Linked DNA regions of Homo sapiens: region 2 is linked to region 1. A link means that fine-mapping ties the variant in region 1 to the expression of a gene that starts in the linked region. Tissue or cell type: whole blood. Region 1 holds a variant in brackets; the other region holds the start of a gene. All regions are shown on one strand. Distances are from middle to middle.

Evidence for each region. PIP is the estimated chance that this variant, and not a neighbour inherited with it, causes the effect.
Region 2: IRAG1 starts here. The variant in region 1 is fine-mapped to the expression of IRAG1 in whole blood (TOPMed, PIP above 0.99).

What each region holds. Positions count from the first base shown.
Region 1 is chr11:10,508,711-10,511,395 of GRCh38, forward strand. It overlaps the pseudogene MTRNR2L8. Among named protein-coding and RNA genes, the nearest start is that of MIR4485, 1.7 kb to the left of the region's middle. RefSeq lists a silencer at 412-706 and an enhancer at 2,269-2,685. The variant CTTAG/C (reference allele first, on the strand shown) is at 1,291.
Region 2 is chr11:10,692,488-10,695,172 of GRCh38, forward strand. IRAG1 (inositol 1,4,5-triphosphate receptor associated 1) reads right to left here and starts at 1,268. Exons shown (of 21, transcript NM_130385.4): 1 at 1,049-1,268. The coding sequence starts at 1,115.

The sequences.
Region 1 (2,685 bases):
TCTCTTTACAAGGTTTTTTCCTAGTGTCCAAAGAGCTGTTCCTCTTTGGACTAACAGTTAAATTTACAGGGGGATTTGGAGGGTTCTGTGGGTAAATTTAAAGTTGAACTAAGATTCTGTCTTGGACAACCAGCTATCACCAGACTCGGTAGGTTTGTCGCCTCTACCTACGAATCTTCCCACTATTTTGCTACATAGACGGGTGTGCTCTTTTAGCTGTTCTTAGGTAGCTCGTCTGGTTTCGGGGGTCTTAGCTTTGGTTCTCTTTGCAAAGTTATTTCTAGTTAATTCATTATGCAGAAGGTACAGGGATTAGTCCTTGCTGTATTATGCTTGGTTGCAATTTTTCATCTTTCCCTTGCGGTACTATATCTATTGCGCCGATTTACAATTTCTATCGCCTATACTTTATTTGGGTAAATGATTTGGTTAAAGCTGTTCGGTAGTAAGGTGGAATGGGTTTGGGGCTAGGTTTGGCTCAGAGCGGTCAAGTTGAGTTGAAATCTCCTAAGTGTAAGTTGGGTGCTTTGTGTTAAGCTACACTCTGGTTCGTCCAAGTGCACTTTCCAGTACACTTACCATGTTACGACTTATCTCCTCTATATAAATGCGTAGGGGTTTTAGTTAAGTGTCCTTTGAAGTATACTTGAGGAGGGTGACGGGCGGTGTGTACGCGCTTCAGGGCCCTGTTCAACTAAGCACTCTACTCTTAGTTTACTGCTAAATCCACCTTCGACCCTTAAATTTCATCAGGGTTATCGTAGTTTTCTGAAGTAGAAAATGTAGCCCATTTCTTGCCACCTCATGGGCTACACCTTGACCTAACGTCTTTACGTGGGTACTTGCGCTTACTTTGCGGCCTTCGTCAGGGTTTGCTGAAGGTGGCGGTATATAGGCTGAGCAAGAGGTGGTGAGGTTGATCGGGGTTTATCGATTACAGAACAGGCTCCTCTAGAGGGATATGAAGCACCGCCAGGTCCTTTGAGTTTTAAGCTGTGGCTCGTAGTGTTCTGGCGAGCAGTTTTGTTAATTTAACTGTTGAAGTTTAGGGCTAAGCATAGTGGGGTATCTAATCCCAGTTTGGGTCTTAGTTATTCTGTGTTCAGATGCATTAAAGCCACTTTCGTAGTTTATTTTGTATCAACTGGAGTTTTTTACAACTCACATGAATTTTAGCTTTATTGAGGGGAATTGATCTAAAACACTCTTTATGCCGGTTTCTATTGACTTGGGTTAATCGTGTGACCGCGGTGGCTGGCACGAAATTGACCAACCCTGGGGTTAGTATGG[CTTAG/C]TTAAACTTTGGTTTATTGCTAAAGGTTTATCACTGCTGTCTCCCGTGGAGGTGTGGCTAGGCTAAGCGTTTTGAGCTGCGTTGCTGCGTGCTTGATACCTGTTCCTTTTGATCGTGGTGATTTAGAGGGTGACTCACTGGGGCGGGGATGCTTGCATGTGTAATCCTACTAAGAGCTAATAGAAAGGCTAGGACCAAACCTATTTGTTTATGGGGTGATATGAGCCCGTCGAAACATTTTCAGTGTATTGCTTTGGGGAAGTAAGCTACATAAACTGTATGGGGTGTCTTTGGGGTTTGGTTGGCTCGGGGTATGGGGCTAGCAGCGGTGTCCTGCAAGCTTTTCTGACATCTTTTCTATAGCACTTTGTGCTTTTATTACATTGCTATACTTAATTGGCCTTTTGGGGGACAAATCCCTACTTTCCTTTGTGTTTGCAACTGGAATAAGAGGCAATTAATTGTATACTGGCTTAGGTTTCTAAAGCAACAGTTTTTGAGGCAGTTATCCCTTCTTTATCCTTAAGGGCTCAAGTTCACTTTATGTGTTACTTCAAATTGTACCGCTGAAACCGATCGACATCATTGCTCTTTGCCTCGTGAAAACAAATCACAGCTCCTGGGTTGTGATTTTTCACGGCCTCTTGGATTAAACAAGAGCCGAAAGCACTTTTCTCTTGCTTTCTCTTTACTTCTGAGTGTTGGTGAAACAATATTCTTCATTTCCTGCGTTTGAGACATGACTGAAGGTGATATACCCAAATACTCTGCCTGAACTATGATCATTATAAAGAACAAGTGTAACTAGGGGAATACTAACCAGATAAACAGTTCCTTGGAAATTTTTGCAATTAGTAAGATAGAAGATGACAGAGAGTAAGACTATAAACAGCTGCAAGCGTGTCAAAACCTATCTCTGCAAAGGCTTTTATGTATTTTGACAGTAAAATGTGCATTTCTCCACAGTATGATGATACAGTCAATTTAACTACCAACTGCCACTCATTCTTATGTCCTTGCACTTTTCAGCACTAAGATTCTACGATGTTTCTCTAATTACATTCTTATATTTTGGAAATGATTTTACAAGGTAAACAAACTACAATAGGGTTGAGCATTTTATTTTTGCTGTCTGTTGGGGTAGGGGTCCACAACCCCTGGGCTGTGGACAGTACTGGTCTGCTGCCTGTTAGGAACCAGGCCGCACAGCAGGAGTTGAGCCGCGGGCGAGTGAGTATTATTGCCTGAGCTCCACCTCCTGTCAGATCAGCAGCGGTATTAGATTCTCAAGGAGCATGAACTCTACTGTGAACTGCGCATACGAGGGATCTAGGTTGCATGCACCTTATGAGAATCTAACTAATGCCTGATGATCTGAGGTGGAAAAATTT
Region 2 (2,685 bases), 180 kb after region 1:
AACTCCACCTGCCTCACTAGCATGTCATCGTCCCTCGGTGGGGGCAATACAATCCTTGGCAGGTCCTGACTCCTTTGGACCCCCAGCCTCACAGTCCCAGGAAGCTTCCTCCTTTTCCCTGCAAAAGACTCTGCTCAGACCAGATTTACTTCCCTGTGCCACCCCAGTGAGCAGCCTGAAGAGTGTTCAGCAGCTGCCGAGCTCTGGGAGGCTGGAGTGCTGGCCAGGGGTCCCAGACCCCGGGCTGCTGTTTACTCAAACTGCAGAGCCTCTATAGCCTTTACAACTGTTTCCTGGGCAGGAGGGAGCAAGACAGCTGGGCCTCTCTCTGGCCTCTGGCTTCCACTGGCTTTTCCTTTGGAAAAAGCCAGTTCAAATGGTGCTCACTCTAGGAATCGCTTCAACTCGGAGCCCTGGAGGTGAGCAGGGCCGGGCACGGGCCGGGCACATACACCCCCTCTAGGGAGCAGGGAAGGGCACAGGCCAGGGGAAGCTGGAGACAAAAGAGGAGACAGGGACAGAGATAAAAACAGGGACTGTGACAAGAACACAGGATGGGAAGGGCAGAGACAGAAATAGAGGCAGGCTTAAGGATCTAGACAGGTCATGCCAGCCCAGGTTCAAGGCAGAGGGGCGTAGGGGGACAGAGAGAGAGACACAGGAAGCACAGAGGGGAGAAAGCTCTGCTTAGCAGACTTGCCAAAGCTGAAGACCCCACTGTTGCCACAAAGGGGCCCACAGGAAAGCTAGGGGTTGCAATCGCCTGTCAGGACCCACATTTTCACCCTGAGCTGTGCACACTTTCCAACGGCAAGCAAAAGGAGCACAATCTAGTTAAGTTAGGACTGGCAAGATTCACTTCTGATTTAAAACTTAAGACAGCAACAATAAAGATACTCAGCTGAAATGCCACCCAACAAAGCCAGCTCCCCTGGAAAGTTAAAGTTTAGCACCCCCATCCCAGCACCCTGTACCTTTAAGGAAGAGAAGGTTCCCTCCGCTTCCCAGCCGAAGAGGCAGGTTATTCTAGGATATAGGGGAGGCTTACCTAAAACTGAGTTATTCTCCTTTCCTCCTCTGGCCAGCCTCTCTTCACTCTGGGGAGCTTTTACCATTTAAGGTCAATGTTACATCTGGCTCCGGAGCTCAGAGCCGAGAAGCCTCTGGCTGCAGAACCTCGGCCGCACGCCTCCTCTGAGAGGGGCTGGGACTTAGAGCCGAGAGCTCCTCTGGGAGCCCCACTCCGGCCTGGCTCGGGGGATAATGGCAGGGAAAGCCGACCAGCTGGCCTCAGGGCTCAGGGCAGGCTGGGCCTTTGGGGCAGTCGCTCACCCTGGGCCCCTCCGATGGGTATCCACACAGCAGATGGCAGTCCCCATGGCAACTCGTGCCACTGGACACTGTCCTGGCCGGACGGGAACAAAGGGACCCTGCAGATCTCCCCACCCGCCTGGAGCCTCCAGCAAGCATGTGAGCCTGGAGAAGACCCTGGGCCAGCGCCAAGAGAAACTGGGAATGGTTCCTGTCCTGGGGATTCGGGGGCAGGGGCTGCTCCCACTGCGTTAAACTCTTGGGATTGCCAGAGAGAATGGCCTGGGAGATTCAGCTACTCCCAGACTTGGCACCAGCCCCAGGGATGTCAACCTTGCTCCTCCATTAAACAGCCTGTGGTCTTAACATCGTGGAGCCTCAGTCTCCTCATCTCTAAAGTGGAAATAATAATGATAATGCCCGACTCACTAGGTAGTCAGGGGATTAAATGAGATGTTAGTCAAGTGTTTAACACACTGCCAGCATCTCATAAGAGCTAGATCAGTATGAATGAGCTTCCTGCCCCTGCCCAGGAAATCCATACCCTGTCCATACACACTCTTCACCTGCCTTGGGTATAGGGCCTACCCAAGGCCAGGATCATGGAGCTCCAAGCTGGGGGCAAGCCACATGGGGACTTCAGCCCCTTCTGTGGTTAGAGCAGCACAGAGAAACCCTAGGTAAAGTTGCTAGATAAATTACAGGACACCCATTTAAATTTGGATTTCAGATAAACACAGGACATACTTGTATTAAAGACTGTTATTTATCTGAAATTCAAATTTAATTAGTCATCCTCTATTTTTGTTTGATAAATCCGGGAACCCTAGCTTTTGGCCATCATTAGCCACCCAGAAAACATTCAGTAGTCATGGTAGAGAGCACTAGGGATTGGAGCTCCCAGGCCTATGGCCTCAAGCTCTCCTGGCAAACACAGTCCTTATGCTCAGCTCCTGGCCACAGATCAGTTGTGCAGCAGTGGCAGATGCTCTCCACTGAGCCTGGCCCACTGAGCCTCCATCCCAGCACCTTCCTCAGGCATGTGGTTCTCAGGAAGTCCTGTCTCTTCTGTGTGGTTGTTGTAAGAGAGATCACTAACAGGGGTGCAGCGCATGAAGTCCGCTACCCTCATCAATAATTGTTTTTTGTAAATGAAACCAGAGGAGGCTGTCTTGGGTACTAGCCATGCTTTCTCTCAAGTGTCCACACCTGTCCACATGGAGGTACAGGCTCCCCCCACAACCCCCGTCCCCCACAAAGCCACATGGTGGTAACTACTAGAATTGCAAGTATATGGTCTAGAAGGAACTGACCAAACTCTTCAGTGCTGTTTCTCCAACTTCAATGTGCATTAGAACCCCCAAGTGTGAAGCT